2 linked regions of the Homo sapiens genome follow. The protein of the gene in region 1 interacts with the protein of each later gene in a biochemical or structural test. Each region holds a gene or a part of one and is shown in the gene's direction. Other genes may lie near its edges.

The links. The genes of interacting proteins can lie anywhere in the genome.
Region 2: the proteins of PEBP1 (region 1) and RAF1 form a complex in vitro, tested with the Homo sapiens proteins (3 studies listed by BioGRID and IntAct, with this or other methods).

Annotation. Positions count from the first base shown.
Region 1 is NC_000012.12:118,139,103-118,146,096, forward strand, and holds the end of PEBP1 (phosphatidylethanolamine-binding protein 1), read left to right. Parts: intron 1-348; coding exon 349-449; intron 450-5,483; coding exon 5,484-5,701; 3' UTR 5,702-6,482; downstream 6,483-6,994.
Region 2 is NC_000003.12:12,598,118-12,605,150, reverse strand, and holds part of RAF1 (RAF proto-oncogene serine/threonine-protein kinase), read left to right. Parts: intron 1-861; coding exon 862-1,015; intron 1,016-1,613; coding exon of another isoform or gene 1,614-1,673; intron 1,674-4,735; coding exon 4,736-4,763; intron 4,764-4,871; coding exon 4,872-4,999; intron 5,000-5,342; coding exon 5,343-5,460; intron 5,461-5,925; exon of another isoform or gene 5,926-6,038; intron 6,039-7,033. UniProt on the Homo sapiens protein: Serine/threonine-protein kinase that acts as a regulatory link between the membrane-associated Ras GTPases and the MAPK/ERK cascade, and this critical regulatory link functions as a switch determining cell fate decisions including proliferation, differentiation, apoptosis, survival and oncogenic transformation.

The DNA of each region.
Region 1 (6,994 bases):
AGGAGTTCAAGACCAGTCTGGCCAACATGGTGAAACCCCGTCTCTACTAAAAATACGAAAATTAGCCAGGCATGATGGCAGGCGCCTGTAATCCCAGCTACTTGGGAGCCTGAGGCAGAGAATTGCTTGAGCCCAGGAGGAGGAGCTTGCAGTGAGCCGAGATCGTGCCACTGCATTCCAGCCTGGGTGACAGAGTGAGACTCTGTCTCAAAAAAAAAAAAAAAAGAAAGGACTGTTGTTCGTGGCTGTGTTGTGGCAGCCAGCATGTTCTTGATGCCCAGTTGCTGACTGTGCAGTGAATGTTCCCTGATCTCCTGTGGTGCTGACATCCCGTGTTTCTTCATGCAGAGAATGGCATCATTTCCTGGTGGTCAACATGAAGGGCAATGACATCAGCAGTGGCACAGTCCTCTCCGATTATGTGGGCTCGGGGCCTCCCAAGGGCACAGGTTAGTAAAGGTTGTTTTTGGTGGGAGGTTGGGGAGGGAGCTCGGGGGCACATTAGGATTGACCCAATGCTTTTCTTTTGAGAGCCCTTAACCCTGCTGGAAATAGCATCTCAGCTTACCTCTAGGGCAGCTGCCTTCAGGGCACACATTCAGACCTGCAGCAGTGTCAGGTGGCTAGAGCCTTGGGTTCTGGACAGACGGACCCTTTGTGTAGAGCTGTCTCTGCACCCCTAGCCCTTTAGCAAGCAGGGAAGTTGGTGAGAGGGAAGCACTGTTGCAGAAAGCTTAGCATGGCCTTTTGGGGCTGCAGTGAGTGGAATACACAGTTAAACTATCTCAAGCCTTTGCCCGGGGTGATCTTTGAGTTTCTTTAAAACATTTCAGAAATGATCATAGTTTCCAAATTAACTATATAAGGTTGCTTTCTGTATTTGTTTCTGAAAAAGTCTAGCTGGGTATATTGAAAACAGATTTGGAAGACTTCAGTAGAACTATATTGAAGGCGCACACACACACACACACATTGTATTGTGTAGTATCGTGTTATAGCTATTATATATAAAATACATGTAGATATTTAGAGATAGAAAGAGAAAGCCCACCGTATTGAAACTTTCCAGGTTGGGTAAGTGCCACCTAAGCTGATGGTGAGATATGCATTCTTATTGCCTGGTGTTCAGTTCAGGATGTTTCCATTTGGTGGAACTGTCATAATCCTAGCTTTTTGTACAGCTTATCCAGCCAGGAGTTAACATGAAGAGGTACAAGAACATCTCTGACATGGACAGTTGGTCATGGGCTCATGGTTTCTCTGTAGACCCGGAAGCTTCAGATGCCTTTAAACCCTCTCACGCATGCATAGTAGATGGTAAAGGGACAGATTTCCCAGGGACCTAGTAAGTTCTCTAGGGCAGTTATAAAATTAGGCAGGTTAATTATGGGAAGCTTACCCATGAGAATAAGGCAATTCTCTCAAGTAAGAGCTGTGTTCTCATTTTTTTTTTTTGAGATGGAGTCTTGCTCTGTCTCCCAGGCTGGAGTGCAGTGGCACGATCTCGCTCACTGCAAGCTCCACCTCCCCGGTTCATGCCATTCTCCTGCCTCAGCCTCCCGAGTAGCTGGGACTACAGGTGTCCGCCACCATGCCTGGCTAATTTTATGCATTTTTAGTAGAGACGGGGTTTCACCGTGTTAGCCAGGATGGTCTCAATCTCCTGACCTTGTGATCTACCTGCCTCGGTCTCCCAAAGTGTTGGGATTACAGGCGTGAGCCACTGCGCCCGGCAGAGCTGTGTTCTCATTTTTAAAAAAGCCTCAGTAACTCATTTTCTTGTTGTTTTTTCCATATTCTTGTAATATGGTATAATTTACATGGTAACAAAATCCACAGATCGGAAGGGTTCAGTCAGCAAATGTGATCAATGCATACACCCATGGAAGGTAGCAGCCATTGGAAAGACAGATGACATTTCCATCGCCCAACGACATTCTCATGTGACCTTTTTACTTAAATTCCCCCAGAGCTAACCATATTCTGACTCCTGTCTCCATAAATCACTTTCACTATTCTTTTTTTTTTTTCTGAGATGGAGTCTCGCTCTGTCTCCCAGGCTGGAGTGCAATGGCGTGATCTCGGCTCACTACAACCTCTACCTCCTGTGTTCAAATGATTCTTCTGCCTCAGCCTCCTGAGTAGCTGGGATGACAGGCGCCCACCACCACGCCCAGCTAATTTTTGTATTTTTAGTAGAGTCAAGGTTTCACCATGTTGGCCAGGCTGGTCTCGAACTTCTGACCTTGTGATCCGCCCGCCTTGGCCTCCCAAAGTGCTGGGATTACAGGCGTGAGCCACTGTGTCCAGCCACTTTCGCTATTCTTGTGTTCATATAATGGTATCATGGACCAGGCACGGTGGCTCACGCCTATAATCCCAGCATGTTGGGAGGTGGAGGCAGTTGGATCACTTGAAGCCAGGAATTCAAGACCGGCCTGGCCAACATGGTACAACTCTGTCTCTACCAAAAATACAAAAATTATCCAGGCATGGTGGCATACGTCTGTAGTCCCAGCCACCTGTGGGGCTGAGGTGGGAGGATGGCTTGAACCCGGGAGGTGGAGGTTGCAGTGAGCTGAGATTGTGCCATTGCGCTCTAGCCTGGGCGATAGAGCAAGCCTCTGCCTCCAAAAAAAAAGTATCATGCAATGTGTATTTTAAAAAATTTGGGTGACTGGTCTGCTTCATTCCAGATAATATCTGTGAGATTGGTCCATAGATTGTATCAATAGTTACCCCTTTTTATTGCTCAGTAATATTCCCGTTGGTGAACAGGCCAGTTTGTTTAGCCATTCTCTATTGATGGGCATTTGGGATGTTTCCAGTATTTGGATATTATGAAGAAATATCCAAATATTATCCAGTCTTTTTGTTTAAACTTCTGTGTATTATTCTAGGACTATTTAGCTTTGAAAAGAAATTTGGGCACATGCTACACCAGGATGAACCCTGAGGAACATTATGTTAGTGAAATGAGCCAGTCACACAAAGACAAATACCGTACAATTCTATGAGATACCTAAAGTAGCCAAGCTCACTGAAACAAAGTGGAGTGGCTGCCATGCATTCTTTTTTTTTTTTTTTTTTTAAATTTTTTTTTTTCTTGAGACAGAGTCTTGCTCTGTCACCCAGGCTGGAGTGCAATGGTGTGATCGCGGCTCACTGCAACCTCCACCTCCCAGGTTTAAGCGATTCTCCTGCCTCAGCCTCCCGAGTAGCTGGAATACAGGTGTCCACCATCACACCCGGCTAATTTTTTTTACTTTTAGTAGAGACAGGGTTTCTCCATGTTGGGCAGGCTGGTCTTGAACTCCTGAGCTCAGATGATCTGCCCACCTCAGCCTCCCAAAGTGCTGGGATTACAGGCAAGAGCCACCATGCCTGGCAAAATTTACCATCTTAACTCTTTTTTTGAGGCTGGAGTGCAGTGGTGTGATCTCAGCTCACTTCAGCCTCCACCTCCCAGGTTCAAGTGATCCTCCCACCTCAGCCTCCTGGGTAGCTAGGATTACAGACACGTGCCACCATGTCTGGCTAATTTTTATATTTTTAGTAGAGACGGGGTTTCACCATCTTGGCCAAGCTGGTCTCAAATTCCTGACCTCAAGTGATCCACCTGCCTTAGCCTCTCAAAGTGCTGGGATTACAGGTGTGAGCCACTGCGCCCCCTCCATCTTAACCATTTTTAAGTGTACACTACAGTAGCGTTAACTACATTCACTTTTTTTTTTTTTTTTTTTTTTTTTTTTTTTGAGATAGGGTCTTACTCTGTCCCCTAGGCTGGAGCACAGTGGCACGTTTTCAGCTCACTGCAGGGCTCAGCTCACCTCCTGGGCTCAAGCAACCCTCCTACCTCAGGCTCCCGAGAAGCTGGGACTACAGGCACAGGCTACCTACCACATCCAGCAAATTTTTGTATTTCTAGTAGAGACGGGGTTTCGCCATATTGCCCAAGCTGGTCTCAAATTCCTCCTGGGCTCAGGTGACCCTCCCACCTTGGCCTCCCAAAGTCCTGGGATTATAAATGTGAGCTACCATGCCCGACCACTACATTCACATTGTTGTGAAACAGATCTCTAGATTTTTCATCTTCCCCAACAGAAACCCTGTCCCCATTGACCAACAGCTCCCCATTTCCCTTCCCCTAGCCCTGGCAGCCACCATTCCACTTTCTGTTGCAGTGTTTGTCTACTTTAGATACCTCGTGGAATTGTACAGTATTTGTCTTGCGACTGGCTAATTTCACTAATGTAATGTTCTCAAGGTTCTCTGGTGTAGCATGTGTCTGAATTTCTTTTTAAGGCTGAATAGTCCTAGAGTAACACAGGGGAGTAAAGAAAAAATAAAAGGCTGGATAATATTCTGTTGTGTGTATAAACCACATTCTGATCATCTTTTCATCCATCAGTGGACAGTCGGGTTGCTTCTGCTTCTTGGCTATTGTGAATACTGCTGCATTGAACATGGGTGTGCAAATATTTAAACAACTTTTTAAAAAATAACTTTGTTTCTGGCCGGGTGCAGTGGCTCACAGCTGTAATCCCAGCACTTTGGGAGGGCGAGATGGGTGGATCACTTGAGGTCAGGAGTTTTGCCAACATGGTGAAACCTGGTCTCTACTAAAAATACAAAAACAAAACAAAACAAAACATAACTGGGCGTGGTGGCACGTACCTGTAATCCTAGCTACTCAGGAGGCTGAGGCAGGAGAATTGCTTGAACCCAGGAGGCTGAGGTTGTAGTGAGCCGAGATCATGCCACTGCACTCCACGCCTAGGCAACAGAGTGAGACTCCGTCTCAAAAAAAAAAAAAAAACCCACTTTTTAAAAAAATAAGAGCTCATGGTACCTATTTGCATCCAGTACATCATTGAAGCTTGTAGAAAGCTGCTTAGTTAAAGTGAGGTTGGGTCACTTCGAAGTAGTCCTCCAGTTTTCTAAGCAAGTAAATTTTGGAGGTAGAAAGAAAATGTTCTCCTTTATCCTAGAGGCTCGACTGTGGTATGGTGGGCCCGGGTCATTGATTTGCTTTGTCCTTAATTGGTTGCTCCTACCTGACAGAAGTGAAATGGGTGTTCTGATGGGGGGTGGTGGGTGGTGACTTGAGAAGGTCCGGGAGCCTGAAGTGGGATGAATGAAGAGCACAGAGGCTCGTTGGGAGGCGAGGATAAGGGGGTGCAGAGGCCAGATCCCACAGGCCAGGAGAGGCTGGAACTAAGGGCTTGGGCTTGACACCAGTTACAGCAGGGGCCTAACACATTCTATTAGGTTGATGCAAAAGTAATTGCGGTTTTTGCCATTAATGTGTTAATTGCCATTAAATGTTAATTTGCACCAAATACCTGTCTGGACCCTCGGTGTCCTCCTTGTAAATGGTGTGGTCTGGGTGCCTCCATGTTGAAACATTCGATAAAAATGGATGATGTCCCCATCTCAAGTGCTGGGCTGTGTGTACATCTTCCCTCTGCCTCTCCCCACAGGCCTCCACCGCTATGTCTGGCTGGTTTACGAGCAGGACAGGCCGCTAAAGTGTGACGAGCCCATCCTCAGCAACCGATCTGGAGACCACCGTGGCAAATTCAAGGTGGCGTCCTTCCGTAAAAAGTATGAGCTCAGGGCCCCGGTGGCTGGCACGTGTTACCAGGCCGAGTGGGATGACTATGTGCCCAAACTGTACGAGCAGCTGTCTGGGAAGTAGGGGGTTAGCTTGGGGACCTGAACTGTCCTGGAGGCCCCAAGCCATGTTCCCCAGTTCAGTGTTGCATGTATAATAGATTTCTCCTCTTCCTGCCCCCCTTGGCATGGGTGAGACCTGACCAGTCAGATGGTAGTTGAGGGTGACTTTTCCTGCTGCCTGGCCTTTATAATTTTACTCACTCACTCTGATTTATGTTTTGATCAAATTTGAACTTCATTTTGGGGGGTATTTTGGTACTGTGATGGGGTCATCAAATTATTAATCTGAAAATAGCAACCCAGAATGTAAAAAAGAAAAAACTGGGGGGAAAAAGACCAGGTCTACAGTGATAGAGCAAAGCATCAAAGAATCTTTAAGGGAGGTTTAAAAAAAAAAAAAAAAAAAAAGATTGGTTGCCTCTGCCTTTGTGATCCTGAGTCCAGAATGGTACACAATGTGATTTTATGGTGATGTCACTCACCTAGACAACCAGAGGCTGGCATTGAGGCTAACCTCCAACACAGTGCATCTCAGATGCCTCAGTAGGCATCAGTATGTCACTCTGGTCCCTTTAAAGAGCAATCCTGGAAGAAGCAGGAGGGAGGGTGGCTTTGCTGTTGTTGGGACATGGCAATCTAGACCGGTAGCAGCGCTCGCTGACAGCTTGGGAGGAAACCTGAGATCTGTGTTTTTTAAATTGATCGTTCTTCATGGGGGTAAGAAAAGCTGGTCTGGAGTTGCTGAATGTTGCATTAATTGTGCTGTTTGCTTGTAGTTGAATAAAAATAGAAACCTGAATGAAGGAACTGAGTCCCCGGATGTTTTGTTCTATTGGGTATAGGTTTCATAAGTGTGAGAAGTCAAGTCTCAGGGTGAGTCGTCTCCGTGACCAGCAAGTAACAGCTGGGACTTGTTCTAGGGGCCATATGGAGGGTCTGTGCCTCTACATGTGCCATTAACCCACAGCAGGAGCAAACAGTTCAGATTTGAGGTTTCTAAAAAAAAAATCATAAAATGTGAGGCCGAGTCTTATTGCCCAAAAAGCACCTTTGCTTCAAGTGGTCCTTTTGACCCAAGAAGGATGTTCTAAAGAAGATGGCTGAAAACCTTCCCCCTTGGTGAAGTCTGGCGCGGACACCGTAACAATGCCTAAGAAGTAGCCTGCACTTCCCGTTCTGATGTGTTATCCACAGAGGCTCAGTACCAAAGAGGTGCGCAGGGTAGGAGGGTGAGAAGGTCACGGTCTCATGCCATCTGATGTACCGAAAGAAAGGAAAGGAGGTGTTTGAAGGTGCAAATCACTGTGATTTGGTC
Region 2 (7,033 bases), on another chromosome or scaffold:
CTGTATGGCTTTTATTTTTCTTGATAATTTGAAAAGCAAATCTGACCAAGAATTTGTAGTTACCTCTGAAGATTAGAAGAAACCAGGCCTCTGAAGCCATAAAACAGAGGATTATGTGGGAAGGCATTTTTTTCAAGACAATAGAACAATTTCCCTTAGAAAAGCTGGCCTTTTTCCCTTTAATTCATACATGGGTGTTACCTGAATCTGAACAAACCTCGAACGAATCTTTAGAGCAAATAATGAAAATGTTATACCTCTTAATGCATGTTCCCAGTTTGGTTGGTGGGGGTTGGTGGTGACTGGAAGAGGCCAGTGGTTAATTTCACATTTAGGTATTTCCATCTAAAAACTGAATTCCCATTTATTTACTTTGTTTGCTGGTTGTAGCAGGTAAGGACAAACAGAGGGTAAAATCCTGGCCTTTTTACAGACATGCTCAGCACGTCTACTTATCTGTTTAAATAAATTCTCAAATTTAGTCTCTAAACTGGGCGTGTTCCAACTAGCTTAATAGGTGGTAGCGTGGTTGTCAAATGTTAATCTGTTCTTTCCTGGAGATGTTGTAAAAATTTGGAGTAGAGTGGTGCTTTATTTAAAAAAAGAAAACTTATAATGCACTCTCCTTTTCATTGAATTCCCAATACATATATTATTTCCTGTTCCAAATTTTGTATGCAAAAGCACCTAGACTTAAGATAATTTTTAGATGTCACACATTTGAAAGAATCAAACATTTTGTCAAAGGTTGTACAGGTAGAGTTTGCCCTTAAGCATCTTACTTAGTCAAATATGTACTTGAAAGACTTCACCAGTATGAAAGCCTAAGTGCCAATCATGGAATTTTCTTTCTCCTCCTAGTTCTCAGCACAGATATTCTACACCTCACGCCTTCACCTTTAACACCTCCAGTCCCTCATCTGAAGGTTCCCTCTCCCAGAGGCAGAGGTCGACATCCACACCTAATGTCCACATGGTCAGCACCACCCTGCCTGTGGACAGCAGGATGATTGAGGTAATAGGGCACCTTGGGGGTGGTAATGTCAGTCAATTAATGGGGTGAGGTTGATACTTATTTCAGAGTTTTGGGTTTCAAATCTGATCAAGGAATGTTGCAACACTTTCTCAGGTCTCTGGACTTTTACAGTTTATTTTATATCCATAATATCTTCAGACTGGCTGAATAGTCTGGTTAGTATATCATTCAACTGGAGAACTAAAACTTCCTGAAAAAATGTTAACATTTGAACTCTTCCCATTATCAGATTTGAATAGGCTATTAATGAACAAGTGTCTAAGATATTTAAAGAGCAGTTTAGTTTTGGTGTGGGACAGAAATTAACAGTGATGGAGAACTACAGATTCTCTGGAAGACTTTTGTGATTTTATTTAGAAATAAAAGGGTGGAGTCCTAGGACTTTAATAAGCAGGTGTTTGGGGAGATGTCAAAGTGCCCAAAGCTAGTGTTTTTGAACTGCTTTTTCTTCTCTTGGCTTTTTGGTTATGTCCTATTGGTTTAATTTGCTTTCTGCTTCATCTTTAATAACAACTGAATACACTTAAATACTTCCTTTGTTCTTTATTCTTCTTTATTTCTCATTGCTTTGGACTAGAATAACAACCTGAGTGCTTCTCCCAGGGCGTGGTCCAGACGATTTTGTTTGAGGGGAAGAGTAGGTATTTTTCTTCATGCCTTTGCTTTCTTGTAATTAACAGGATTGCTAAAACTGTCAGACAGCAGACTACCAAAAATGAAATAGTTGCTAAGTTAAATTTATATTTCTTGTCACTTGTTTCCATGTTTTCTTTTTCTTTCTTTCTTTTTAAAATTTTTTTTGGCAGTAGAGTATATAGAAGTAAAAAAAATGTTGTATGTGGTATTGATGATAGGTGAAATGAATTTCTGAAGTTAGGCCAGGCATGACGGTGTATGTCTGTTGTCCCAGCTACTCCAGAGGCTAAGGCAGGAGGATCACTGGAGCCCAGAAGTTCTAGGCTGTAGGGAGCTACAATTGTGCCTGTGAATAGCCATTGCACTCCAACTGGGGCAACATAATAAGAATCCACCTTAAAAACAAACAAAAAATGTTAAGTTAGATTTTGAGGCCAAGGGCATTAAAAAGTTTTTTTTTTAAATCAATTCCAACCAAAGGCTAATGTTAGACTTACTTAGTTGGTGCTCACAGCATTGGTATTCTGTTTATACATTAGTAACCAAATGTGTTTTTGGTTGATAAACCCTAGAATAAATATTCTTTATTGAAAGCTTATCAGAGACAACTATGCTCTCTCTCATCATGTAGACACCTGCTGCCTTAGGCACAGTTTATCTCATTCAGACCTCAAATCACTTTCAACATAATTGTCCTGCCACTATTGTGAGGAGATCATGTATAAGCTATAAATTTTATTATTTTGACTTTATCATTATGATTAGTCCTGATAATACAATAATATACCAGTTACTGCTACTTCTATTAAATGGTTTGTTCCTGTATGAACACTGTAATACTTACAGGGAACAGTAAAGGTCAGAATTGGCTGGGTGGGAAGATCACTTGCGACCAGGAGTTCAAGACCTACCTGGGCTATATGTAGCAAAACCCCACCTCTACAAAAAAAAATGTAAAAATTAGCTGGGCTTGGTGGTGTGCACCTGCAGTCCTAGTTACTCAGGAGGCTTGGGCAGGAGGATTACTTGAGCCCAGGAGTTTGAGGTTGTAGTGAGCTGTGTATGATTGTGTCAAGTAAGAATTTTTGAGTTTTTATTATAAAAGAATTAGCACAATTGTTGTGCCTAATCATTTTTTACTTTAGAAGCAGGGTAAATTTTGATTCCTGTTAATTTAATCACATATAAGTCAGCATTTTTAAAGTAGACTAATTGTTGCTTTATTCAAATTATTTGTGGGTCTCAAATTATTCATAGTTCTCTTGAGTATTTAGACTCCAGGAACAATAGGAAAATTCTTTCTAGAATAAATTGATCCAACTATAGAAATTAGCACAGAATAAAATATGGGATATTTAATTGATACAGGGAAGAAAATTACCATAACATTAAGGAAAATATTCTGCTACATAGGAATATAATTGTGGTTAATAAAAATAAATTGTGCTTTGCTTTAAAAACAAAGAACAGCTTAGTTGGATAATGAAATTACAGCTGCCGATTTCTATTGAAATCCACATTATTTTTTGCCAGTGTTTTGCCCACCTGGCAGTTATCCTGCTGTACTTAAAAACACACATTCCTGGACTTCTCACATTCCCCTCCAAAACATGCTCAGTCAATCGTGGGTCGGGGATTAGGGGTGGATCTTCATTCTTCTTTCCAGAGTCAGAATCACTCTCCAGGTAATTCTGAAGACTAGCTAGTTTTGGGAACCAGAACTAGGCTTTCTTGTTAAATTCCGAATTATGTTTTGGGAGCAGGGGAACAGCTTGGTTTGATTCTTTTTATCTAATTATATAATTAGATATATAATTTTATCTTTTTATATAATTGAGTGGGAGCATTCTAGTAATAGTTGTGTGGAACAAGTATCTTGTCTATACTGTAGTTACACAAAGAGAATATAGTAGGACTTCCCCCCAAAAAATGTCCTTTTTTAGGATATGGGGGCCAAGTGGTTTTATATTATTCTATTATACTGTTCTATTCCAAGCGATGAATTTTAGATTGGGGTTTAGGTCTCATAGAGCCCTCTGCAATTTAAACTATTTTCCAAACAGTTTCTAATAAATTCTAAAGATAGCCTTTGCTTTCTCCCATGAGGAGAATGTAACCGATTTCCAAATTTACCCATAAGGCAGTGTTTTGTGGTGAAAGAGCTGAGGGCTGAGATCCATATATGATGGTTTCTGGTTCTATTTCTGCCACCTACTGGTTCTGCCAAGTGACCCTGCCAAGTCTCTCTACCTGTTCAGATGTGTTTTCTTATATGTAAAATGTAGGTTTTGAACTTGGATTTGTGGTCTTTCCAGCTTTCTGTGATTTTAGGCTTGGATAAAGTATATAGGCTGCTTACCTTTTTCAAATCCAACTTCTAGTCAATTTAGCCTAACTCCTTGTGGAGTAAGAGTGAGCTTCCCCCAGAATCCACCTCCCCACCCTGGCTTTTTAAAAAAAGTTTTGAGCCTCAGTGGAACAAGAATCCCAATCTTTGGAAGGGTCTCAGCTGAGAGTAACTTTGCTAGCTTCCCTTGAAAGAGTATGTTTGTTGTGTACATTGCTTTCTTTTGAGAAAAAGAATGTGGTTTTCATTATATATGAAAAACTAATACCAGGCTTGGCACGGTGGCTCACGCCTGTAATCCCAGCACTTTGGGAGGCCGAGGCGAGAGGATCACCTCAGGTCAGGAGTTCAAGACGAGCCTGGCCAACATGGCGAAGCCCTGTCTCTACTAAAAATGCAAAAATTAGCCGGGCGTGCTGGTGCACACCTGTAATCCCAGCTACTCGGGAGACTGAGGCAGGAGAATTGCTTGAACCTGGGAGGTGGAATATTAAATCCTTCTAATATTTAATGAAAAATCAGCCTTGGAGATACTGGCCACTGATATTTGCTGAATTTAATCAAGGAACGTTGATTAGAGTATGTTTAGGATTTCTATGGTTTTTAGAGGTTTTTATAATCTATTTTGTTCTTGCACATCCTCCTCCTCTTTTTTCCCTCCCCCAGAGAAAATCTTTTGTGTGTAGGAGTTGACCAGCTTTCCTTTTCTGTTTCAGGATGCAATTCGAAGTCACAGCGAATCAGGTACTTTTCCATAGTCATTTAGCCAACAATAATGGGCTTTTTTTCTTTATGCGGTGTATCTTCTGTTGGCTTATCCTTGTGTGGCTTCTGTTTGTCTTGTCTATTAAGCCTCACCTTCAGCCCTGTCCAGTAGCCCCAACAATCTGAGCCCAACAGGCTGGTCACAGCCGAAAACCCCCGTGCCAGCACAAAGAGAGCGGGCACCAGTATCTGGGACCCAGGAGAAAAACAAAATTGTGAGTATAGACAACAGTACCTCCTGCCAATTAGGGTTCAGTAAGAAAAACCTCGTTGGAAATTAGAATACTTAAACTTATTTTGGGAGAAGATTCTAATAAAATACATTCAATGAAGGAGATTATAAATGTTACTGTCATTTTTGGCACACTTGCATCAGACAGTTTGCCAGTGCTATAACTAAAATGGTATTTCTCAAAAGACAAAAATTGGAAGTATGGTTAATATGTTTATCTTTAAAAGATATGGAAACAGATGACATGGGTTGATCCTTTGATGCCCTCATTATCAAAAGATTATTACCATTGCATGGAGTATAATAATGATCTCTACTTGTTTCAGAGGCCTCGTGGACAGAGAGATTCAAGCTATTATTGGGAAATAGAAGCCAGTGAAGTGATGCTGTCCACTCGGATTGGGTCAGGCTCTTTTGGAACTGTTTATAAGGGTAAATGGCACGGTAAGCTTGGGGCCCTCCCTTTACTAACTGCAGGGCTTTGGTGTGAAGTCAAGTTTCAGCCCAGGGGGCCAGGAGGAGGAGAGGACTGAGTGCTCCTGGGCTTATAGCAGTACTCTCCCTTACATACTTGATTATACCTGAAGATTGAACTTAATTCTTTTTAGACTAAGTTCTTATAAAGCTCCCAGGATAATTAGAAATTAGTGAATAAGACTTGAGCCCTATAATCAAATGTCAGGAGTACTTCTCCTTTAAACTGATTAAATACAGTCTGCACATGGGTCATGCTTGGAAGCTCCTTAAGTGAGCAAGAGTCTGCTGCTATGGAGGGAGCATGGGTTCTAGAAACTTTAAGCTGGAAAGGACCTTAGAGATTGAAATGGGGACTGATTTGCCCATGGTCATGCAGTTAGGCATAGGAAAGCTGGAAATCTCCTGAAGTAACTTCTCTTTGTCCTGCCCTAGGATTAGCTGTGGGTGTCCCTATCAAACAGGGAAGGCATTGACTTAATTCTTGAATCTATGTGGAATATTAATGTTCTGATTTTAATGGAAACACTTTGTCACTTGGAAGAAAGGTACTATTTAACTTATGTAGTTACAGCTTGTGTATTTTGGCAACACTGAACATTTTGGCAACATACTTAGCATTTCTCTGTTAGGTTTTTAATGCCTCTGGCTTTAGGACTTTGGGAAATAATAGGTATTTCCTTGAAAATGCTGCATGTTCCCAAAAAGTCATCTCTTCTAAATTCAGATTACAATAAAGCAAAAATCACAGAGTCCCTTGGTGCCTATACTACTTTGGATGACACTGGAATTATCTTTAGAGATAAATGTGCAAAGATTGAGAGAAGTTAAAAGCATCAAATGAATGGAGTATTAAAATTCAAGGTACTGAAAATATCAAACACCTCCAGTTTTGAGTACTTGGTGGTTTTTTTTTTTTTTTTTTTTTTTTTTTTGAGATAGATTCTTGCTCTGTTGCCCAGGCTGGAGTACAGTGGCACAATCACAGCTCACTGCAGCCTCCAACTCTTGGGCTCAAACAGTCCTCCTGCCTAAGCCTCCCAAGTAGCTGGGACCACAGGTGAATGCCCAGCTAATTTGTTTTACCTTTTGTAGAGACAAGGTCTCACTATGTTGCCCAGGCTGGTCTCCAACTCCTGGACTCAAGCAGTCCTCTTGGGTCTCTCAAAATGCTGGGATTACAGGCATGAGCCACTGTGCCCAGCCTTACCATGTGCTCGTTAATGCATGGTTTTTACCACTTGTAATTAATCATCTGACCAATTTCTAGTTCCTTAAGAGGATTGGCACCCGACTGAACATTTGTAAAGTACATGTGGAATGATTCCTTTTCCTTTGAAAATTGCATCTGGCTGGGCAGGGTGGCTCACGCCTGTCATCCCAGCACTTTGGGAGGCTGAGGCAGGCAGAACACTTGAGCCTAGGAGTTCAAGAACAGCTTGGGCAACATCGTGAAACCCCATCTCTACCAAAAATTAGGTAGATGTGATGGCACTCGCCTGTAGTCCCAGCTACTTGGAAGGCTGAGGCAGGAAGATTGCTT